Linked DNA regions of Homo sapiens. The protein of the gene in region 4 interacts with the protein of the main gene of each other region in a pairwise test. Each region holds a gene or a part of one and is shown on either strand. Other genes may lie near its edges. The genes, in order: SPATC1L, CCDC57, CCDC102B and ARL4A.

What was found.
Region 1: the proteins of ARL4A (region 4) and SPATC1L interact in binary tests that used the Homo sapiens proteins (3 or more experiments, as listed by UniProt).
Region 2: the proteins of ARL4A (region 4) and CCDC57 interact in binary tests that used the Homo sapiens proteins (3 or more experiments, as listed by UniProt).
Region 3: the proteins of ARL4A (region 4) and CCDC102B interact in binary tests that used the Homo sapiens proteins (3 or more experiments, as listed by UniProt).

What each region holds. Positions count from the first base shown.
Region 1 is NC_000021.9:46,181,445-46,189,049, forward strand, and holds the start of SPATC1L (speriolin-like protein), read right to left. Parts: upstream 3,016-7,605; 5' UTR 2,912-3,015; intron 2,331-2,911; 5' UTR 1,373-2,330; coding exon 1,180-1,372; intron 1-1,179.
Region 2 is NC_000017.11:82,209,841-82,217,434, forward strand, and holds the start of CCDC57 (coiled-coil domain-containing protein 57), read right to left. Parts: upstream 3,003-7,594; 5' UTR 2,945-3,002; intron 1-2,944. UniProt on the Homo sapiens protein: Pleiotropic regulator of centriole duplication, mitosis, and ciliogenesis. Critical interface between centrosome and microtubule-mediated cellular processes. Centriole duplication protein required for recruitment of CEP63, CEP152, and PLK4 to the centrosome.
Region 3 is NC_000018.10:69,053,065-69,055,709, reverse strand, and holds the end of CCDC102B (coiled-coil domain-containing protein 102B), read right to left. Parts: intron 1,681-2,645; coding exon 1,573-1,680; 3' UTR 521-1,572; downstream 1-520. UniProt on the Homo sapiens protein: During interphase, forms fibers at the proximal ends of centrioles to maintain centrosome cohesion. During mitosis, dissociates from the centrosome following phosphorylation to allow centrosome separation. Contributes to CROCC/rootletin filament formation.
Region 4 is NC_000007.14:12,683,639-12,690,635, reverse strand, and holds the start of ARL4A (ADP-ribosylation factor-like protein 4A), read right to left. Parts: upstream 3,004-6,997; 5' UTR 2,908-3,003; intron 2,471-2,907; 5' UTR 2,382-2,470; coding exon 1,779-2,381; 3' UTR 1-1,778. UniProt on the Homo sapiens protein: Small GTP-binding protein which cycles between an inactive GDP-bound and an active GTP-bound form, and the rate of cycling is regulated by guanine nucleotide exchange factors (GEF) and GTPase-activating proteins (GAP).

The DNA.
Region 1 (7,605 bases), on a different chromosome or scaffold from region 4:
GCCATGGATTCCCCTCTTTGCTTCCAGACACGCTCGCTCTCAGGCTTGTCCATGGAGCTCCGAGCAGGGCCTGGGGCCTGGCTGCGGAGAGTGCCTCCTGCACACTGCGCCTGCTCAGAGTGCACATCTGAGGGTGGTGGCCAGCGTTTGAGAAGGACTCAGGAAGCAACCTCCCCCACCCCCAGCACAGGTGCTGGAGCGGCCCCTTGGTGAGTGGCAGAGCTGGCCTCCCGGGCATGGCTCGTGCTCGCAGACAGCAGTGTTCACGGGCACTGGCGAGGCTGCCTGCTCCATCGTCCAGGACCAGGCAGGCTGACCACGTCCTTTCCGGGCCCGGCCCGGTGGGAAGCTGAGGTTGGCCGTGGGAATCCCAGGCAGTGCTGGGTCAGGGACTCTGTCCTCTGCCCACCATCCCAACAAAAAGTCAAGGGTACATCTGTCAGCCCCACCCCAAATCACATGCAGGAACGGGTAATGTTTTTCCCAAACCTTTTAGAATAAAGCCTACTACTTTGCAGAAAGTGACCAAACCCTATATATATACTTTTTTCAGTAAAAAGCCACAGAAGGTCGGAGTCAATGCTATGTGGTGAGTGGATCATGGCTCCACACTCCCAGCCCCGCAGGGACAGGCGCCCACTTGTCCCTACCTGCTCCCCTGGCCGGTGGCTCTGAGGCCTCCCCAGGGTGGGACCTTCCCACCATGGGGCTGGCCTGGCTCTGGCCGGGGACATGAGTGGATGGGACACAGCACTCATGGGACTCGTGTGGCTGGTCTGACACCCCCCTCGCCCCTGACCCAGGAGAAGAGACACATGCAGCAGAGCAAACTGCCAGCCAGGACCAGCCTGGAAGAGCTGCCTGGGGCCCTGGAGGCCCACAAGCCTGCGCGCCACCTGCTCTACCCCTATGGGGACACTTCCATGACTGCAGCTGACCAGTCCACCTGCCAGCGGTTGACCACTCCCACTTCGCCAGCGACCGAAGGGGAGGGGAGGGGCCTCACCTGAGGGCAACAGCAGAACCCACCACCTGGTCTTGCTTTACTCAGACCTGAGGGTGTGAAAGGTGCCCGTGACCTCCCGCATCAGGGAGCTGGCCGCCACCCTCGACTCCCGGGGAGCAGGCGTCCCGCGACCCCCTCATCTACCAGGCCATCTGAGCTGGGCGGCGCCTCACCTCCGCTCCCGGGGGAGCCGGCCTCAGGGTAGGCATGCGCCCTGGGTGGGAGCAGGTCGTGGCCGCCGCCCTCCTGGCAGCTCTGGCTGAGCAGCCGCCGCAGCATCTGATTCTCCTTCAGGAGGCGCACCTGCTTCTTCAGGTCCGCGTTCTCGCTCAGGAGCCGGCTCATCAGCTCGCCGCCTTCAGCCATGGCGGGTGCGTCCCTCCTTGTCCCTCACGGCTCCTGCAGCCCCATGGAGGTGGGAGCCCAGAGCCCGCAGGCACCACAGAAACAGCCCAGGCACGGAGTTCCGTAGCCACCACCGCCTTCCACGCCTTGTGATGTCACTGCCCTAGTGATGAGGTGCCCAGCACCCTGCCTGCCCCCGCGATGGCTCATGGCCCCGTTGAGGCAGTGAAGCTGGAGGCCCGTGGCGTGCACAGGCAGCCACTCCCACATTATGACCAGGGCCCGAGAATGCCAAGGACATTAGGCAGCTACGGGATGTAGCGACTGTACTCCAAGAGGGGCGTCCAAGCCACTCCCCATTGAGCGGCCCAGCCAGGGTCGGGTGTCCACCCTGTGTGGTGTCCTCAAGCTGGGTGGGGACGCTGCCTTCACCCGAGTAACATGTGGGCTGCACTTCCCATAGGACCTGCCCAGGACACAGGGTTCCCAGTGCAGCTTCCTGTGGACCCTGGCACCCAGGGCAGCAACTGATGTGCAGGTGTTCATCAGGGTCCGTCCTTGGCACCCACACTTGAGGAGGGAGGGACTGGCAAGGGCAGTGGGAGGAGACCAGCATGTGGGGGAGACCAGCCTGGTGGGGAGACCAGCTTGTGGGGGAGACCAGTCTGCGGGGGAGACCAGCCTGGGGAGGAGACCAGCCTGCAGGGGAGACCAGCTTGCGGGGGAGACCAGCCTGCGGGGGAGACCAGCCTGGGCGGGGAGATCAGCCTGGGGGAGGAGACCAGCCTGGTGAGGAGACCAGCCTGGGGGAGGAGACCAGCCTTGTGGGGGAGACCAGCCTGCGGGGGAGACCAGCCTGGGCGGGGAGATCAGCCTGGGGGAGGAGACCAGCCTGGTGAGGAGACCAGCCTGGGGGAGGAGACCAGCTTGCGGGGGAGACCAGCCTGCGGGGGAGACCAGCCTGGGCGGGGAGATCAGCCTGGGGGAGGAGACCAGCCTGGTGAGGAGACCAGCCTGGGGGAGGAGACCAGCTTGCGGGGGAGACCAGCCTGCGGGGGAGACCAGCCTGGGCGGGGAGATCAGCCTGGGGGAGGAGACCAGCCTGGTGAGGAGACCAGCCTGGGGGAGGAGACCAGCCTTGTGGGGGAGACCAGCCTGGGGGAGGAGACCAGTCTTGCGGGGGAGACCAGCCTAGGGTGGGGAGACCAGCCTGAGGCAGCCCCACGATGGCCCCCACATGCTTTGGAGCACTGGGTGGCCCTGAGGGCTGGGCTGGAGGCCACCTACTGACCTCACTCCCTGATGAGAAGGGTCCAGCAGTGCATGTCCACCCCTCAGACCACGAGCGCCCGTGTCTAAGACACCAATTGTTCCTGACTGCACTGCTCCTGCCTGCACGTAACTGAGGACGCCCCCAACCCATGGCCACGGCCCCTCGGGCCGTCACACAGGGCTGCGGCTCATGGGGCCCTGCTAGAGCAGGCGTCTGTCCTCAGTCAGTGCGACCGACTTGAAACCCACCCTGACTCCCTGCTTCAATTACTTGGGAAAGTAAATCACCTCAGTGTTGTTTCTTGGCTCCGAGGGTCTTGTTTTATCAGCAGCCGGGATGCAACAGATGGGTCATCTCATCCTCATGGGAAGGGACGTACGGCAGAAAGCACAACCCAGTGGGCCGGCCACACCTCCAGCCCTGTGACGGGCACCCACCACCACCAACCCAGTGGGCCGGCCACACCTCCAGCCCTGTGACGGGCACCCACCACCACCAACCCAGTGGGCCGGCCACACCTCCAGCCCTGTGACGGGCACCCACCACCACCAACCCAGTGGGCCGGCCACACCTCCAGCCCTGTGACGGGCACCCACCACCACCAACCCAGTGGGCCGGCCACACCTCCAGCCCTGTGATGGGCACCCACCACCACCACCATCCCAGTGGGCCGGCCACACCTCCAGCCCTGTGACGGGCACTCAGGACCACCAAGGGCACTCAGGTGCAGATGCCCCTGGGAGAACACCACCTTCATTCAGCCCGGGCGGCCAGATTAGGGGAAGGTTGCTTCTAGGAGAGAAAGTCTTGAGTCAGGCTTTGTGGAGAAAGGAGGTTTCTACACCCCAAGCGTTCCTGACACAACCCAACCAGCCTGGTGTTGCACCACAGGGCTCACACCTCAGATCAAGACAACGGGGGCCCAGCCACAGCCCACTGACGAGGGCATGCAGGGCGTCCAGGATGCAGGGCAGAGAGAGAAGCGAGGGATGAGTCACGGATGCGCCCCCCGCTCTGAGCCCGACGGGGCCCTGAATGGCTTTTCCTGCCCTGGCTCCTCCCATCATATTTTAAATGCCGTCTTCCTCCCGCTCCAAGGAAACCTTCTCTTGACGTCAGGTACTCTCCAGCCACGGACCTATCAACATTCTGACAGTTTTCTGGTCTTGACACATTATCCTTTTAATATAGCGCTGGATTCAATTTATTAATATTTTAAGTATTTTTATGCTCACAGGGGAAGTCGATCTGAATCTCCTTTTCTTGTGATGTCTCGGTCTGGCTTTGGAACACTGGCCTTTTAAAATGAGCCGCAGAGATTCTGCGCCATTTTCTGGGTGTTCCTTCTTAAACGTCGGATAGAATTCATCTGTGAAGCTATCTAGAACTAGATTTCTTCTGGAAAAGTTTTAAATTTCTAAATCAATTTCTTAAATAGATACAACGCTACTTATATTTTATATTTTTCCCTCATGTGCGTTTTGCTGACAATTGTGGCTGTCAGGTAGTTTGTTGATAATAGGGGAGGCTGTGCATTTGTTGGGGCAGCGAGTGGGGAAATCTCTCTATCTTCCTCTCAATTTTGCTAAGAACCTAAAACTCCTCTTAAAAAAGTCTTGAAAAAGACAAAAGCACGAAGGAAACCAGAGAATATTTCAAGTTGAATGAGAATAAAAACATGACATTAGAATTTGTGGGGTGTAGTTAAAGCTTGATGCCCGTGCTCCACAACCACAGGAAATGGACAAACCCTACCAAAGTTATCAAAAGAGAAGGACACCCCATCTGTAGAAAACAGTCAGAAGATTAGGCAGATGTGGTGGTGCGTGTCTGTTGTCCCAGCTACTCGGAACACTGAGGTGGGAGGATTGCTTGAGCCTGGGAGGTCGAGGCTACAGTGAACTGTGGTTGCGCGGCTGTGCTCTAACTTGCGTGACAAAGTGAGACCCTGTCTCAATAAAATACTTTAATTAATGAAACTGAAACTTTCTGCTCTGCAAAGAATGTCAAGAAAATGAAAAGACAAGTCAGAGACTGGGAGAATATTTTTGAAACGTCCTGCAGCAAAGTGGTACTTTTTTGAGACAAGGTCTTGCTCTATTGCCCAGGCTGAAGGGCAAGTGGCATGATCACGGCTCACTGCAGCCTCAAATGCCTGGGCTCAAGAGATCCTCCTGCCTCAGCCTCCCAAGCAGCTGGGATTACAGGCGCGCACACCCACACTCAGTCCCAGAGTGGTCCATTTGTTACAGCTGATGAATCTACATGGACACATCGTCACCACCCAAAGCCCACAGTTTACAATGGGGCTCACTCTTGATGCTGCACATTCTCTGGCTTTGGACAAATGTATAATGACCTGTATCCACCATCACAGTGTCAGGCCAGAGCAGTTTCGCTACGCCTATAGTCCCAGCTACTCAGGAGGCTGAGGCAGGAGAATGGCGTGAACCCGGGAGGCAGAGCTTGCAGTGAGCCAAGATCGCGCCACTGCACTCCGGCCTGGGCGAAAGAGCGAGACTCCGTATCAAAAAAAAAAGAAAAGGCTGAAGACCTTAACAGACACCGCACCAAAGAAGATACACAGTTGTTAAATAAGCATATGAAAAGATGTTCCACATCATATGTCATCAGGGGAATGCAGATTAAAACTACCAATATACCTTTTAGAGTGGCCAAAATCCAGAACACTGCCACCACCAAATGCTGCTGAGGACGTGGAGTAACAGGAACTCATTGTTGGTGGGAATGCAAATTGGCACAGCCACTTTTGTTTGTTTGATTTCTTTTTTGTCTTTTTTGAGACGAAGTCTCTCTCTGTCACCCAGGCTGGAGTGCAGTGGCACAATCTCGGCTCACTGCAAGCTCTGCCTCCCGGGTTCACGCCATTCTCCTGCCTCAGCCTCCCGAGTAGCTGGGACTACAGGCGCCTGCCACCGTGCCCGGCTAATTTTTTTTATTTTTAGTAGAGACGGGGTTTCACCGTGTTAGCCAGGATGGTCTTTATCTCCTGACCTTGTGATCCGCCCACCTCGGCCTCCCAAAGTGCTGGGATTACAGGCGTGAGCCACCGCACCCGGCCCCTTCAGCCCATTTTTTAACCAGGTTGTTTTATTGTTGGGTTTGAAGAGCTCTTTTGGATACTGATCCTTTGTCTTTTTCAAATATATTCTCCCAGTCTCTGACTTGTCTTTTCATTTTCTTGACATTCTTTGCAGAGCAGAAAGTTTCAGTTTCATTAATTATTTTATTGAGACAGGGTCTCACTTTGTCACGCAAGTTAAGAGCACAGCCGCGCAACCACAGTTCACTGTAGCCTCGGCCTCCCAGGCTCAAGCAATCCTCCCACCTCAGTGTTCCGAGTAGCTGGGACAACGGGCACGCACCACCACACCTGCCTAATCTTCTGACTGTTTTGTACAGATGGGGTTTCACTGTTATCCAGGCTGGTCTCCAACTCCTGAGCCCAAGTGACCCTCCCACCTTGGCCCCTCAAAGTGCTGGGACTACAGGCATGAGCCAGAAATGTATTATTTTAATGAAGCCCAACCTATTAATGTTTTCTTTCGAGGATCATGCCTTTGGTGTCATATCTAAAGAGTTACTGCCAAACCCAAGGTCACCTAGATTTCCTCCTATGTGATGTTCTAGGGGTTTTATAGTTTTGTTTTACATTTAGGTCTCTGATTGATCTTGAGTATGTCTAGATGTGAAGGGTATGTCAAGGTTCATTTTTTTTTTACAAATGGAGTTTGTTTCAGCATTTGTTGAAGGCTGTCCTTTCTCCATTGAACTGCCTTTGCTCCTTTGCCACTGATTTTCAATTCAGTTTAACTCCACTGTGGTGGGGGAGGATGCTGTGTGTGACTTCCGTCCTTGCTAACATACTGAGACTCACCTGGTGAGCCAGCTGTGGTCTACCTTAGCACATGGGCCACGAGCTCTTGCAAAGCCGTGTGCTTCAGCAGTGTTAGGTGAAGCATCCTCTAAAGACCGCTCGCTTGTGTTGGCTGATGTTCAAATCTCTGTCCTTACAGATCTCATGTCTGTCAGTTACAAAGTACGGAAAGCACCCGTTAAAATTCTGTTTTTATCTCATTCTCTTCAATTCTGCCATTTTGCTTCATGTATTTTGAAGCTGTTATTTAGTGCATATACATTTGGGGTTGTTATGTCTTGATAAATCGATCTTATCATTATTGTCTCTTTACTCATTTCTGGTACCGTTCCTTGTCCTACCGTCTATGTTGATATTAAAAATATCAAGAGTCTGAAACTTTACATCATAGTGAACAAAGAAAACCTAATATGATGCCAGGGAAAAGATTTCAGGATGTTCAAAATCTGTTCCTGATAAAAATAATCTGAATTCAAAAATCTTTCATGACTGATTTTTAATCACACTGAGGCAAATATCCCCCTCAGACAGAGGCTGCACCGGTACAGCTGCCATCTCCTCTTGGTGGTGTCCTTTGTCAAGAGCATGTCAGGGTGATGAGTCATCTGGGACAGGTCACCCTCCCAGCACCGAGAAGCCGACGGGGGAGGAACAGACTCCTCTGCATTGTGATCCAATTGTGAACAAAAAGTCCTCTTCGTGGAACAGGAAAAATACACTCCCTCTAAACAATGGATTGAACACAGATGTGATTTCTAAAGAAGACTGAAGGCAGGGATACTGACACTGAAGTCCTGCCTGTGTAATAACACCGAAGAGGGCAGGGAATCGCTGCGTCCTGTGACTTGAAGGCCACTGTGAAGGAAAACAATGCAGTGAAAGAAAGTTCCTCCTATGTGGACATTGTATCACGTTTATTTATCTTCCTGGATATGCTTATGGCCTTTAAAACATATTAAAATAGGCTATGCTATTATCTCTTAAAATATCTGTTTTCCCTCAGGTAACTGGAGACGCACCCTGCTACTCCTCACGTCACTCTTGTTCCCTAAACCAGGCTGGGCCTCCCACTCGCCCCACAGG
Region 2 (7,594 bases), on a different chromosome or scaffold from region 4:
AGTGTATAGAAACACGTTTCCTACTCTATCCATTAAGAAAGCCAAGAAGAAATGGCATCCCAGTAGCAATATGTCTATCTGGTACTGGGATCTTGGTTTCTAAACACTACCTTCTAAACTAAAAGGAACCAGGGCTCCTTGGAGAAATGACTGATTCTGGGATATGTCAAGGCAAGCATAAGATAAGCCTGAATTCTGTGATGCCAGAAAGAAAGAAAATGCTCCCAGAAGGTTGGGACGTGCTATAAGGACAGAGAGGCCAACTTGAAGGGGCTCCTAACACCTCAATCTGGATAATGTGAGCAACAAAGTACGTGATAGCGATGGGTTAGAATCCATGGAATAAAAAGATGCACTAACACCGAGACCGCGCCCCTGCAAGCCAGCCTGGGAAGAGATGGTTCTTTCTTATAGGAAAATCCCAACTAATAAATGTAGGAGTAATGGAAACAGAAAAATCATTTAACAAATAGCACATTAACAGTTATTTTGGGGAAACACTCATGGGTGCTAAAATTAGTGACAGAAGTATGGTTAGAAACAAGATCTTGCTGGGCGTTGTGGCTCAGGCCTGTAATCCCAGCACTTTCGGAGGCCAAGGCGGGCGGATCACTTGGGGTCAGCAGTTCGAGACCAGCCTGACCAACATGGTGAAACCCCGTCTCTACTAAAAATACAAAAAAAAAAAAAATAGCCGGGCATGGTGGCAGGCGCTGGTAATCCCAGCTGCTCAGGAGGCTGAGGCAGGACAATCACTTGAACCCGGGAGGCAGAGGTTGCAGTGAGCCGAGATCAAGCCACTGCACTCCAGCTTGGGCGAGAGAGAGAGAGACTCAGTCTCAAAAAAATAAAATTAATTAAAAAAAAAAAAAGGCCGGGCACGGTGGCTCACACCTGTAATCCTAGCACTTTGGGAGGCCAAGGTGGTGGATCACCTGAGGTCAGAAGTTTGAGACCAGCCTGGCCAACATGACGAAACCTCGTCTCTACTAAAAATACACAGATTAGCTGGGGGTGGTGGTGGGCGGCTGTAATCCCAGCTACTTGAGAGGCTGAGGCAGGAGAATCACTTCAACCCAGGAGGCAGAGGTTGCAGTGGGCCGAGATCGCGCCACTGAACTCCAGCCTGGGCGGCAAAGAGAGACTCCGTCTTAAAAAAAAAAAAAAAAGAAAAAAAAAAAAGAAAAAGAGAGAAAGAAAGAAACATCATCTTTTACATAGTGGCAAGATATTTCCCCACAAAATATTTATTATTTACAAAGGGAAGGACCCTAACTTTATGGACACACTTGGCAGACACCACCTCAGCCCCCAGGACGTGACTAGCACCAACAGCCAGGGGCATCCTGTGTCTCGTAAGACGCTGGGAAGGGCACAATTTCCCTGTTGAGGTTTTCTTGCCAAAAATCAGTAATATGAAATCAATTATGACAAAACATCAGAGAAATGCCCCCGAACTGGGGGGCATTTTATAAAATAGTGGACTCATCATTGGATCCTGGACCACGGTAAAGTCATCCATGAGGTAGCTGCTAAGCAAGAATAAATACTGGAGACCAGATCATGGGATGATACCAACATGAACGCCAGCGTCTACATGTTGCTGAATGAACTGTGGTTCTCTAAGAGGTCAGCATTCTAGGGGCTCTGGGCAAAAGGCACACGGGAAATCTGTGCTCCTTTTGTATCCTTTTTCTAAGTTACAGATAATTTTTTTTTTTTTTGAGACCGAGTTTCGCTCTTGTCTCCCAGACTGGAGTGCAATGGCGCGATCTTGGCTCTCCGCAACCTGCGCCTCTCGGTGTGGTACCCTACTTTGTTTTAACCTGACTGACTCTCTCTTAGCTGAGAGGGCCGGACAGACACCATTTTGGTTTCTTCGCTTGCAGCCCCTTGTCCCCGTCCCTTAAGGACATAACTGGGGCAAGCTGACTCCAAGCACATCCAGGAATGCGCTTACTGATAAAATACTGATAAGAAACTGGAGCAAGCTGTACCAGCAGCTCCTGGGAACGCGCTCGGTTGATGGTACCCAAAGCCCCTGCGTTTATCACTTTGTGATAATTTAAGCCCCTGTACCTGGAACTGTTTATTTTCCTGTAACTGTTTCTGTAACCATTTATCTTTTAACTTTTTGCCTATTCTGCTTCTGTAAAAAAATCGCTTCAGCTAGCCTCCCCTCCTCTATTTAGACCAAGGTATCAAAAGAAATCTAGCCCCTTCTTCGGGGCCGAGGGAATTTGCAGCTCTAGCAGTCTGTCAGTCGCTGGCAATACAGGACTCCTGAGTAGTCTCAGAGTGTGGCGTTCTCTCTATAACTCCCTCAGTTACAACATCGGGTTCAAGCGATTCTCCTGCTTCAGCCTCCGGAGTAGCTGGGATTACAGGCGTGCACCACCACGCCCAATAATTTTTGTATTTTTAGTAGAGAGGGGGTTTCACCATGTTGGCCAGGCTGGTCTCGAACTCCGGGCCTCAAGCAATCTGCCCGCCTCTGCCTCCCAAAGTGCTGGATTACAGGCGCGAACCACCGCCTCCGGCCTTTTTTTTTCCTCTCTTTTTTTTTTTTTTTTTTTAAACTCACAGACACTGTAAGGCTGCCTGGGCGCGGAGCCGTCCTTGCCGGCGGCGGAACCCGGGGAATTCTCCCGGGGCTGCGGGGCCCTGGTCGGCAGCGCCCACCGCCCCAGGTCACCCACGGGAGACCGAGGGAACGCTCCCGCTCCACGCGGCCGCAACCCCCGCCCCGCCCCGCCGCAGCCTCCGCGAGGGGATCCCCGGTCCGGGCCTGGCCGAGCTCTGAGGGTCGACCTCGCGCTCCAGGTCCCCACCAAAGCGCTGCGTCCGACAGGACGGCAGCTGCTGGGGTTTTCTACAGGAAGAGTGGTCGGAGCGGCGCCCCCCACGCCTCCCACGCCTCCCACGCCGCCCGCCCGCACCTCACCCTAACGCCCGCCAGCAGCGCTGGCCAGGTCCCGCCGCGTTGCCACAGCGACCGGGTCAGTCGGCCGCGTCCGGCTGCGCTCGGTGCAGCGCTCGGGTCCCGCCGACAGGAAACGGGGTCCCTGGCGCTAGGTTCCGGCCCCTCCCGCCCCGCCGGGTTCCGCGCTGCGCCCGGGTCCGAGGGGCGCCCCGGCCGACCCGACCACCGCCGCAGATCGAAGGAGGGAGCCCGGCCTCCTCACCGGTCAGCGGGGCGACTCCGGACGGGGCTCCGGGCTATGGGGACGGCGGGTTCCGCCGCGCGAGGCGCCCCCACCTTCGCCGCCCCCGGCCCGGCCGAGGGTCCCCAGGCGCCCGCTTCCTGAGGCCGCCCGGCTCGCGGTCCCGAAGGGTTGACTTGAGCTTTTGCCCTGAGATGAAGGGAGCACGGGGCGGCCGAGGCTGCCCGTGGGGGTCTGTTCGGGCCGGGGGCGCCACGAAGTCCTGCCTAAGGGTCGGCTGCGGCCACCGGGGCACGAGTTCCCGGCGCTGCCCACGGGCTCGGAGACCGGCGGGGCCCAGGGGCCGTGCGCGCGGTCGCTCAGACCCTGATTAGGGAACTGGGGGAAGGAGGGGGGTCGGGACCCACCGAGGCCCGAAGTCGCCCCCACCATCCTGTGGGAACAACATCCTCAGGCACAGCCATTCCCAACCATTCACATCCTCAGAAAAAGGCACGTGTCCGTATCCATCTGCGGATGGATGAACAGAGCCCGGCCCCGGGACAGAGCAGCCTGGCTCACCCGAACCCTCAGCCCGCAATTCTGCGTGGGAGTGGAGGGGGTGTTTGGTGTCTGGGAATTCCCCTGGTGGGGCAATAAGCCAGGGGTCTGGTGTCATCCTCCACCCACATTGTTAACACTGGATCACTCCTCTCCGTGCCGTGCCTGCAGCCCAGGCACCCTGCAGCCTGTCCTCCCCGAACCATGCGTCCTGGTAGAGCTGTCTCCCTCGCCCACAGTCCTCAGTCCCGCCTCACACACCAAACCCTCTTCTGCCTCAGGTCCTTTGCGCCAGTTGCCTCTGCCTAGACTTGGTTCCCTGGATGCCCCCTCCCCACCCCATGTGTATGTCCGGCTCCCTGGACCCACCCCCCACACTGTGTGTCTAGCCCCCTGGACCCACCCCCCACTCTGTGTCTAGTCCCCTGGACTCCCCTCCCCACCCCCTGTGTCTAGCTCCCTGGACCCCCAACCTGGCCCATGTGTCCAACTCCCAGGACCCCCCCACCCTGTGTCCAGCTCCCTGGTTTCCCCCACCACCCCATGTGTTTGGCTCCCTGTCCTGCTGCCTTCTCAGTGCTTGTGCACCCCCAGCCTCATCAGACTTGTCACTCTATTAGAACAGGATGTAGGGCCTGGACTGTTGGCTCCCTGCTACCCCCACCCACAGGACAGTGCTGGGGTTGACCCGACTTTGGCTGCACATTTGACTGGCCCCTGGATCAGCTCTAGGACTAGATGTACCCAAAAGGATGCCCACATCCTTGCCTCAGCTCCTGCCTCTGCCCACCCAGAGAGCTGCCTTGCCCCCATGTCCACGATGCAGCCACCAGGCCTGGGTAAGCGTGGGTGTCCGAGACGGGCTGGGACACCCAGAAGAGGAGCCAGGACTTGCTTGGTCTGTATCCCGGCTCTGCATGCCTCAGTGTCCCTGCCTGTAAAGTGGGATCTATGGGAACCCATGTGTGGGCCGGGCACAGTGCTCACACCTGTGAACCCAGCACCTTGGGAGGCCAAAGGGAGGATCCTTTGAGCTCGGGAGACAGGGTCTCGCTCTGTTGCCCAGGCTGTAGTTCAGCGGCGTGATCTCAGCTCACTGCAGCCTCCGCCTCCCAGGTTCAAGCGATTCTCCTGCCTCAGCTTCCTGAGTAACTGGGATTACAGGCACTTGCCACCATGCCCAGCTAATTTTGTATTTTTAGTAGAGATGGGGTTTTGCCATGTTGGCCAGGCTGGTCTCAAACTCCTGACCTCAAGTGATCTGCCTGCCTCGGCCTCCCAAAGTGCTGTGATTACAGGTGTGAGTCATCATGCCTGGCCAAAAAAAATTTTTTTAAATTAACCGGGTGTGATGGCACATGCCTGTGGTCCCAGCTACCTGAGGCCAAGGTGGGAAGATCACTTGAACACAGCACTTCGAGGCCACAGTGAACTATGATCGCGCCACTGCACTCCAGCCTGGGTGACAGAGCAAGACCCTGTCTCCAAAAAAAACCCTCTAAACCTATGTGTTATGGATAGGGCCTCTAAGAAGGTAATTAAAGTTACGTGAGTCCTAAGGGTGGGACCCTGAACTGTTGTCCTTAAAAGAAGAGGAAGAGACACCAGGAGTGAGCACACAGAGGAGAGGCCACATGAGGACGCAGGGAGAGGGTGCCGTCTGCAAGCCATGGAGAGGCCTCAGGAGGAACCCACCCTGCCGGCAGCCTGATCCCTGACATCCAGACTCCGGAAGTGAGAAAATAAATGTCGTTTAAGCCGCCCAGGCTGTGGTGTTGAGTTATGCGGCCCTAGCAGGTCATTTGTCACGTCATGGGTATCTGGACCTGGAATCGTGTGCTGGCCCAAGTCAGCAGCATGGCACCCATGGTCACCCCTTCAGCTGAGCCACATGCCCGGGTGCCCCAGGGACAGAGCAGGGTGTGCCACGGGCACTGCCTGGTTCCTGAAGCTGTGGGGCAGGCCGGTCTGGCCCTCACAGCCTGTGCTCTGATTCGAGGGCCGTTCCGTTGGGTTGAGCTCCACGGTCCCAGAGCGCCCGCCGTCAGCTCAGGCCCGAGGCTACACCTACTGAATCCCCCCAGCACTGCAGCACCCCTCCCCTTCCTTCCCTGCCCCCCACACTGCAGCACCCCTCCCCCTCCTTCCCTGCCCCCCCCACACTGCAGAACCCCTCCCCCTCCTTCCCTGCCCAGCTCCCCAGCTGGGCTCCACCTGGGCACCCTCAGTGCGGGTGGCCGGGAGTTGGCTGAGGGAGACCACATTCCCTTCACTCCTGGCCTCCAGCACCCAGCAGGACTCACAGGTGGAAGGCAGACAGGGTGTGAGCCAGGGCCTGGGCCGCCAAAACAAAGAACCCCAAACTGGTCCTTTCTTCTTTCCCAGTTCAGGAAAGCTGAGGATGTCGGCCGGGCCATGGCCCCTCCAAAAGCCCTATGGGAGAATCCTTCCCACCTTGGCCTCAGGTAGCTGGGACCACAGGCACCTAACCCTTCCAGCCTCGGCACCCTTGGCTGCAGCCACATCGCCCCCTCCCGCCCCTATATCCACCATCATGCGGCTTCTCCTGTGTGTCTGTCTCCATGTGCTGCCCTTCTTAGGACGCCATCACGTTGGAGCAGGACCACCCAGCCAATTACGTCGGCGATGACCCTATTCCCAAGCCGCATTCTAATGGACCAGCGGCTACGACTGGATCCTATTTCTTTGGGGACCACCATTCAGCCCTGGACCTGTGTGGGGCTGACAGCCCCCAGTGCTGGCTCCCCCAGGCCGTCCTGCAACCACCCTCATCATGCCACGACAGTGGAGGCCGAGGGCCCTTCCTGGTGCCCCGGTGAGTGACACGGCCAGGACCTGACCCTCCCATGCCTCTGTGGCAGAGCAAGGTGGGTGGGGAACTGGCTGTCCTGCTCCCAGCTGCGTTCCTGGCACCTATGCCCCACCCACCCAGACACACATCTGGGTGTCAGGCAGCCGCATGTCACTGAGTGGGGTAAACAAGGGAGGGTGAGAGGAAGGTCAGAAGGCCATGGCTGAGGGCGTAAGTGTGGGCTGAGGCTCTTGCTTCCCAGAACACAGACTGACCTTGGTGGCAGACCTCACCATGGGAGCCCCCAAAAGCTGCTTGCTTGAGGCCTCCAGGCCTCTTGCAGGGCCCTAAAAGCACAGGGATCCAGGACAAGAGGTGCGGGGGCCCCCGCCTGGGCACCAGCCTGCATGGGCCAGAGCAAGCCACTTCCTCTCAGGTTTGGGGAATGCCCACGTCAGACTTGCAGAGGCAACTTCTCCATCTGTCTGGCTCACAGGCCCTGTGGCAGGAGAGGAGCCAAGAAATGAAAGGGCCCGGTGGGTGTGGGCGGGCCCTGCTCCGATCTGGATCTGGCCAGTGCCTGTGGCACGCCCTGCTCTGTCCCTGGGGCACCCGGGCGTGTGGCTCAGCTGAAAGGGTGACCATGGGCACCATTTGCCTGGCTCCCAGGTCCTGAGGCCAGAGAGGAGCCAAGAAATGAAAGGGCCTGGTGGGTGTGAGTGGGCCTCAGTGTCTGGCTGCTCCAGGAGGAGGGGGGTGGGCACTGACTCCTGCCTGAGGGCTGGAGGCAGGGAGGCTCCTCTGGACAGGAAGACCCTCCAGGAACAGACCAGCAAGACTGGCACTGTCCAGATGGGACCAGGAGCCGGACAGCGGCGTCAGACATGCCCCACAGCGGCCGTGACCACAGCCACTTCCTGGAGGTCAAGACCTGGAGGCAGGGCCAGTGCTGCCAGGGATCCTGGTGTGGACACGGGCAGGACCAGGGGATGCTCCCTCGAGGCTGGTGTGGAACAGGCCGTGCTGCCCAGTGGGTGGGCACCCAAGGGGGCTCCAAGCCAGGCTGTCCTCCCAAGGC
Region 3 (2,645 bases), on a different chromosome or scaffold from region 4:
ATCTTGAGAGGAAGACGCCTTGCCAGTTGCCCCACACCCACTTGGGGCACAGCCACAGAAAAGCAGAGAAACATGGTCAGGCAAGGGGAACCCTAATATTTAGCTTCTCCAAACTGTATTTGGTTCTCATATGGGATTGTGACTGAGATGAGACCTTGACCTGCGGCCCATCCTCAAGGCTCCATCTGGATGAATTGCTCAGTCAGTTGGTTGACAGGGGATATGATGGGATAGAGGAGGTCATACCAGAAAGCACTGAGATGGATCCAGTTCACAGGAGGAGTGTTAAGCAAAGAGAAGGAAGTTCACATTTAAGCATCAGAACCCAGCAAGAGTACCCAGCGACAAGATAGATTTCATTACTACACAGCCTAGCAAACACACACCAGTGCGCACTTGAAGATCGGGCCTCTTTGCCCCTCAGTGCTGCGTTCCTATTAGTCATACAATCCCCCATGTTTGGGAGAGAAACAGGGAAAAAGTGAAGACTCAGTGAATGACAAAGGCTTTTACAATGAGAGACTCTGATAAAAGTGGTCTTTATTCAATAATGAATTAGTAAGATTTCATTTTTTTTTGGCTAATCAATGGAGGGGGAGATGAGTAAAACCAGTATGTTATTGACTGAGTTAAATCTTACAAGTTGCCTTCAGTTGAAAATAGGTATGGAAAATTATAAGTGTCTTTTTGTTCAAAATAACATTTTACCTTAAAAACTAAACTTAAATATGAAGCAATAAACTATAATGTACATAAAAGTTTTAAAGAAATATTCACATAACCACAATTTCCTAATTTTCTCTATTCCCACTACTCAGAGGGAAACCACAGCTTAATTTTGGCCTGATTTCTACCTAGATGCTACTTTGCAATGCTGATGCCTTTCCATGATTTTACTGTAGAAATGTCTATCCAGATAAAAGTCAAAAGTCCTTTTAGTTTCTCAGCGATGCTTACAGCCTGTCTTAGATTCAATCACTGGTTATCTGTTACTTTAAAATACAAAACACTTTTTTCTGATTCATCTGCTCACTTCTGTTTTATACAAAGATTAGAAATGACTTATAAAATTATATAAGAAATGTATTGTTACACCTCTAGAATGATTCATTTTTGTTAATACAACCTGCCATCCCCACCACATAGACAACACGTACATAAAAGTTTACCAATTATTTAAACAAACCAGTACTTTATACTTAAAGTCAATGGTTTTCTTATTAATGACCCAGCGTCTTGTATGGTTTTCAACTTACTTTTTCTTACCGATATTATAACTCTTTCAGATTTTATGTAAAAAGTATTCTGAAAGCCCTTTTTGACTTTCAAAATATTTACACATCTTAGAATTAAAGTTGTTTTTAAATGACATTTAAATTGTCTTTTTGAGAATATGCAGTATCTGTTAGGCAAAAATTAGAAGAAGTGAAGAAGCCCATTAATTTGTGTATTGTCTACGTTTTTTTCATTAATATTTCTAGTTAATAAAAACAATTTTACTGATATTTAAGAAAAGGATATGGAAATGTCTTTAAGGCCCTAATCTTTAATTCAGCATATTTTGTGAAAAAATTACCAGTTTTGCAAGTGCCTGAGTTCAGTCTCTAAGTTTTCATTTCTTTCTTTCTCTTCATCCAGAGACCTCTGGAGCTTACGGATCTGATTCAGGGAATCATCAAGCTGAAAGCGAAGTAGAAAATGCTTTAGTTAGGTTCAAGTGTTCTATAGTACATCATGGTGGCTATAGTAAATAACATCTTATCATATTCTTAAAAATTGCTAAGAGAATAGATTGTAAGTATTCTCACCACAAAACTATAAGTATTTGAAATAGTACATATATTAAGTAGCTTGATTAGCTAGTCTACAATGTACACATTTAGAAAAACATCATGTTGTATATCATAAATATGTACAAATTTTACTTGTCAATTTAAAAATAAAATTTAAATTGAAAAACATGAGGATCCATTCTATATAAGACACAGCTTTCTATCTCCATCTTAATAAGAAAAGCTCTTAATGAAAAAAAAAAGTAGTTGAAATAAAGTAACTCTTTAAAAACAAGGTATATGTTTGTATGACAGTAACTTACCAGTAGTGTATGTGTGAGTTTCTTTTGTATATGTGCATGAATAAATGAAAATATTCATTTATTTTAATAGAGTTAATGTACATATTCAGTAATAAACCTCAAAATGATCTCTGAAATATTTGACAAAATCCTTTCTATGTAGCCACTCTTCTCCCATTTCCCCTCTTGCCTCCCCTAGCTATAAGTCACTGAACTATAACTTGTGTTTTTTATTCCCATGGCTTTGAACAAAATACACGTGTATGTATACATATTCACATATACATATGCTAAGTGTATATATATATATATGTGAAATATATTTATATATATTATTGAAAATGTATCATTTTAATTGTTTTAATTAAAAAAGGTATTTCATGCTATATGTAATATTCTTGCTTTTTAAATCCAACAGCTAAGACTCATCTACAGTAATGTTTCATCTGTGGTCTCTTTGTCCTCTCTATTATAGCACTGCATTACTATGCCATGACATATATACCTACCCTCCTTTCCATGAGTATTTATATTGTCTCCAGCCCTGTGATGCTCTGAACATTCATATATA
Region 4 (6,997 bases):
AAAAAAAAAACAGCCTTCAATGCCTGTCACATCTAAGCAGATCTGAACTACTATGGGACTAAATAGCCTAGCTGGTCAATTGTTTTTACACATCTGATTAAAAGCTTCAGCAAAAGTGGAAATACATTAAAATTCAAAGTCAAATACTGTTCTCCTAGTGCCTCAAGTAGTTTATTGGTAGTTATTATCCACATTTCTATAAACATTCTAAGTGACCATCACTAGTGCAGGAATATTTAACATATGAAGGCTCCACATCAAGCTACTTCATTCATTTTGTGTGACACAAGAATCAAGGTTCCAAAAACTGTTATGCCACTGAAAAAAAAAAAAAACAAAAAAACAAAACCCAAAGCCAAAACAAATCCTGCTAGCAAAGTGCATTTCTTTTGGTGATTTTTCAGAACAGCTGTTGCTTTAGACATAAAAAATAAGCTGATTTAGTAAAATATGGTCACTGGAAGTAAGTGTCTGTAGATAAGAATTAGATAAAGGCCTTTCCTCCTTATAGAGCTTTTTATTCCAATGTAAACAGCACCAGTGAATTTTCATAAAACAGGTTTGTTATTTTCCCCTCATTTTCTATAATTGTAATTCTTATCTGCCATACTGTTACCATTTCTTCCTCTCTATAATCAGGACTGGACAGCCCATGTAACACTGTTCAATTTGTAAACAAAAAATTAAAGCTCGGAACACATACAGGTTATCTTTTACATTTTCATTCTACAGCGCATCAGGTATATTTATAAAGCTTTTGCTCTTCTCAACACACTACAAAAATATATAAAAACCACATTTGTTTTTAGCCAGCAAATATTAATAAAACAAATATCTTGTAACTGGAATATTTTAGAGACCACATATTTTAATTACATCCTCTTGACTAAATCGCCTTCTTCATAAATCCATATATGTATCCAGTGCATATTTATTAGTTTACATGCCCATATTTACTATGAATGAGTCAATCATTTTAGGTTCTTCAAGTGAAAGTGCTTCTGACAACAAACTATTCCTATAATAGCCCTAAATCCCCAAAAAAGTTGTTTTAAACCTGTGTAGAACGATGCATAGCTATTTCTAAAAAGTAAGACTACACACCAAAACATGCTTTGTCAGGAAAACTAATCCATGCACTTGAATATACCCCAAATATCTTATTTTTAATAAAGGTAGACCAACTTAAACATTGTCTAGAATTAAGCTATACTATTAAATTACTTGATTCCAGAAAGCGTCAAAAATCATTTGGCAGAAACTTAAAAAAGAAAATACTTACTCCTTGTCCCTTACTTCAAAAAAGGACTGGTTGGACCAATGTGATCAATATAACTGCATATATGTTAATCTACCTTAACATTTCCATCGATTAGCACTTGATCGTTACAAAGCCTTGTATGCAATTTTCTTGCAAAGGCTTCCCCCCGAAAGATGTAAGCACAAAACACTAGGCAGACACTCTTTAAAGTTTTATTTCACTAACTTCAGACCAAATTCCCACAACTGTGTTCTGGTCAATTTACTATCCTTGCTTGGCTTCCCCAAATGGTAGTACCAAAAGATTTGTGGGGTAGGGAGAAGAGACCACTTTAAGAAGCACTGCATTTACTCATCTTCCACAAGGCAACAGAGTTGGGCATCTGATTGTTCAACAAAACAAAGCTTTAATAGCATCCAGGAGGGCAGACAGGCAAACCACGCTGTAGACACTCTTCTATTTGTCAAAATCAGACCAGAGAAAACCTACTCCACACAGATATAATAGGTATTGATATTCATCTTTTCTTTTTCTGTTGCCGCAACATTTTTCTTCTTTTAATGATCATATCATGTAGTTTCTCAAGTCCTTCCTTTAGGCCATCTCCTATGATTGCACAGGTAGGCTGCAAATGCCAAGGAGTTGATGAGCTCAGTTCACCCATTGCTAACAATTTCTCAATTTCTGAAAGTGACAATGAGTTCCTCAAATCTTGTTTGTTAGCAACTATAAGTACAGGGACTCCCTGATTTTCTGATATCCTAGTTATTTTGTGAAGTTCAGTTTTGGCTTCTTCCATCCTTTCGACATCAACAGAGTCCACAACAAATACAATGCCATCTGTGCATCTGGTATATGACTTCCACAGTGGCCTTAATTTCTCCTGACCACCTACATCCCAGAAGTGAAAAGTGACTGTTTTAGAATTTCCCAAGGTTACCTTAATTTTCTCAGTGTTAAATCCTTTGGTAGGTACGGTATTTACAAATTCATTGAACTGCAGCCTGTATAAGACAGTTGTCTTTCCAGCACAGTCCAAACCCAGAATAACAATGTGGAAAGACTGAAATGAAGGCAGGTTGGACAGGATAGAAGTCTGGTCTGACAGCCCATTCCCCATTTCCAGGTGCAAATAAATGTCCCAAATTGAAATGCTTTTCTCTTCTTGGTTTACAACTTCTCTTGGTAGCTGATCCAGCTATAAGACTGCTGGGAGACGGAAGAAGGAATAAGTTATTCTCCCGAAATAATACATTAAAACAGGTTTGCTCTACTTTGCTAAAATAAACAACACGAAGAACTTACTATAACTTGCTGCGCTAAACAAACCAGACGAGATATGAAACGTACATGAAAACACACACAGTCCAAGACAAACGATGGAATAACAGTGATTGAAATTATCTGGTTTACTTAAATTGCAGTAATATGTACGTTTTTCTCCTGGGTCCCCAAACCTCAAAGACCTCATTCTGGAAAGAACCCAGTCACCAGTATCTGGTCTAAGTGGCCGTAACCACAAAGTGCCTATCTGGCAGAAAACTCATAGCAGATAGTCCTATCTTCGGAATCTAATTCCACATGCTTAACAGCATACCCAAGATCACTATTACCTCCTACCCCTTGCAAAATAACAACGTTCTCACCTCCCGATCTGGAGTCTGGGTCCAAATGAGAAAGCATTGGCAGGCGTTTCTACGCAGGGATAAGCACCCTTCCAGCTTAGCTCTCCAAGCAGCTCTGGCAGTTGCCGCACGAGAAACCTTGGACTCAGACTCCGACCACGCCCACTCCTCCCGGTCCACTCATGATCCCAAATCCCATTGGTCACCCGCATCAGGGAAGCCATGCAACTCCCGCCCCCGCTCCCTAATTGGTGAGGGTAACTGCCGCTCCCAGCGCGGCGGAGCTGAGCTCTCTCTCGGTCCACCGGCACCACCTGTTGCCCTTAAGTTAGAAAAGGCGGCGTTCCCAGAGGGAGCCGAGCAGCCGCTGCAGGTGAAGGGGAGCCTCGGGCGGTCAGGTCGCCGCCAGGCTGCCGGCTCCGTTCGGCCCGGCGCACCTGCAGCGCAGCCAGGGCGTCAAGCCAAGGCTCTCACATCCGGGGCCCGCAGTCACTGCCAACGCGTTAACCCTTTGTCCGCGGGCCCGAGGGTGCCGGCTGTTGCCGCGCGGGCCCCTGAGGCGCTAGAGATCCCACCTGGCGCGCCCGCCGGGATAAGCCCATCCTCCCCGAAGTGGGATCCCTTCACCCTGTCCCTCCGCACACGACCGGCTCTTCTCCCTCGGCAGGGCGTGGCCGCCCCGGCCGCCCACCCCGCCGCGGCTCACCTGACTAACCGTCCTTCCCTCTTCTTCATTCAGCGTCTCTCCCAGCCGCTGGGGAGGCGCGCTGATACCTGTTCCCTGGCACCAGGGAGGCGTGGGCGATGGCAGAGGACTGGGCGCCTGGCGGGCGCCGCGCGCCAGGCTGCCCTAACGGTGCTCGCCCGGCAGCTCCACGCGACAGTCCCCGCCCCCTGCCCGCGCGCCGCCCGGGCGCCGGCCTGTAGGGGGCGCGCAGGAGCCGCGTCTCCTAGCAACGCCAAAACAAGGTCGAGTTCGAATCGGCCTAGCGCTGGCTGCCCGCGAGGTCGGATGGGACTTCCGGCCTCACCCCTGAACGGTTGCTCCGGGTAGCTCTGTCTGCGGCGGCCCGCCAGCCTGGCACAGGCCCCGCCCGGCACCGCCTTCCCTCACGTCGTCTAGGGCGTCCGCGGGGCAGCAGCCACGTGATTCGCGGTTAGGGATTCCATAGTTCACGGGTTACGGCACACACGCGTTACGTATATATCGAGGTGACGTGGAAGTCCCCCAGTAGTTGACCTTAAACAGCCTGGGTTGACTGGCCTGGTAACTGCGCCTTCATTCGCTTTTTGTAGAGCAAATGAACGCGCTGTCTCACGTGTTTCTAGCAGCATCCCGGGGAACTGGCCACAGATAGAAATATTCCAGTTTGACACATAAGGAAATACACTCTGAAAGATGAAAGGGATGTTTCTTTTTTTCTTTTCTTTCAAATTGCTCACACAATTTTAATTGCAATAGATATAATTTCCAATATACCATTCAACTACACCATTTGTATGTGCTGGAGTGAGACAGGAGTATTTTGATTGAGTGTCCAGTTCTCTTTAAAACTAGCGTTTGCAGTTAACGACTTGGAAAATACAACACAAAAAGCCATCTAGCCTTTTTTTTTTTTTTAATCTCTATTTATCCCTTCAAAATTCCCTTTGTGGCCATATACATACTAGGTGGCTCTACCTGCAGAAAGCTGCATTTTCCAAGCAGCGGGAGAGTTTAATTCTTAACTTTCCTGTACTCCAGCCTCTGCTGGCTCCCTTGCATTTTTGTTTCCATCCTCTTCTTTGTCTTCTGTGCCTTTCGTTCTAGGTTAATCTGCGCAAGCTCTTCACTTTTGTCTGAATGTATTTTAGCGGTGAATTACTCCTTCTGGCTAAGAGCTTCACATCTTCAGTGTTAATGGTGGTGGTTTTCGCATGTCTTGCACACATTTCTAGATCTTGCACTGTCGAAAAGTCAGCTCCGAAATTGCTGCAATGATAAGTTTGCTGAACTGCATCTCTGCCCAATGCCACTTCCTCGCAAAGACAACCCACAGTGTAGTCCACTGCTGCCTCCTTTGGCCTCTGTTGGTAAGAAAATGGCTAAGAAAATCGCTGCTGCTCCTCCACCTCCACCTCCTCCTCCATCAGAACGGCGAGGCAAACGCGCAGAACAGAAAGGGGCTGTGGGGCAGCGGCCAGATTGGATTTTCTCTCCGCAGCCCCAAAGGGATGTTTCTAATGACCCAAGGAAAATTAGTGGTGGTCCTGGAACTGTTCATCTAAGTCTACTAGTCATCAAATGCAAAATGCTTTTCATTGGATGATTCTGACTAAATTTTGTCTTTGATCAATAAGTTCACAAATATTTATTGAACACCTAATAGGCAGTAGACACAATTCTGTGTGCTTGGGGATAAAATGGTGAGCAAAATACACTGTCCCTGCCCTTGTGGAATATTGGAGTCTCTATGGATGACTAAATTTATAAAATGTTTTCAGCGGTAATTTCAGGGTGCTTATGACAACCTGCAAAAGAAGTAATGACTTGAAGTTGTAGGAAAGCTTTAATCGACAAACATCTTTTTGGTGAAGGCTGTAAGACTGTAACTTGGAAGAACCTATATGGTACACTTTTTTAAAAGTGTGCTTTTTTTCTTTTTAAATATGGATTGGAGTTTCCTCAAGAAATATCCTAGTTTTTCTCAAGACCGCTATTGCCAGTGATATTTATTTCTTTTATGACTAGCACAGGAACATGCATACTTGTCATACCGGATTCTTTAAAAAGTCGAGACCAACCTGGCCAACGTGGGGAAACCCCATCTCTACGAAAAACACAAAAAATTAGCCAGGCGTGGTGGCGGGCGCCTGTAATCACAGCTACTCAGGAGACTGAAGCAGGAGAATCGCTCGAGCCCGGGAGGCGGAGGTTGCCGAGCCGAGATAGCGGCATTGCACTCCAGCCTGGGCAACAAGAGCGAAACTCCGTCTCAAAAACAACAAAAACAAAAACAAAAAACGACGTAAAAACCTAAGTTCTGAGCACAATGCATAATCTCAAGACAGCCACACTAATTTTGGGAATAAGAGCTAGAAATATCAAATGGCATATTCTATAAACATGAATCTATTATAAACTAAGGATTGCCTGATTAGTTATAATTGTGAAATCTCATTAGCCATTCACATAATCAGCTAATAATTGATAAAGGGCTTAGTGCAATAACCTATTTCCTTTTATTGGAAATTCAATAGGGATTCTTTATTAAACTGGGATAACTTGCAGATTCTCCTTAAGTCAAGAATTTAGAGCAAGAAAATTCTGTGGCCACCCTCTGTTTACAGTAGTTTTGAAATCTCTAAGTCCTTCCAGTGTTCCTTGCACAGTCTTCCCTGGAGCAAAAAGGGAAAAAAGGAAAACAAAAACACTGAGGGCTTCCAATCTTGCAGAATCGTCCTCACTGAATTGCACTTTAATGTTATACCCTAGGTTTTAAAACTACAGTAGTGGTTGGCAAACTGCAGCCTGTAGGTCAAATTCAGGAGATAAGAATGGTTTTTACAAGTTTAAAGGGCTGCAAGAGAATGGATAAGAAAAGAATATGCAATCAAGATCATCTATGCCCCCCACAACACACACATACAAAATAAATGTGCTCTCTGCCTCTGTAGAAAAATGTTTGGTGTGCCTGTTCTATATATAAAAACCATATGAAAACAGCAACAAATGATATTAAAAGCAATGGAATTTGTGGAACACAAGGTTCACTTTGTTGCCTGATCTTATAGAAGGCCCATTCAGAGCTTTTACTTACATTCTATGCCAGAAAAAAATTCCCTTTAGGGCCTGTAGCTTGTAAATAGTGCTCTGGGGTGCCTCAGAATTCCTAGGGGTTCTGTGGGATAGTTTAACTTTTTGAGGGAAACACAGTGACATCTGTTGGACCATATTAACAACTACAACTATCAAGTTTGGATCTATCAATTTCATAAATAGAAATGTTGGCTATTTATTTTGGCCTGAGGTACCATGAAAAAGTACTGAGGCACTAGGGCCTCTGCGAACCTCACCTTTAATTGTGGTTTTCCAAACTTGGCTAATGATGAGAATCACCTGTTAATGCTT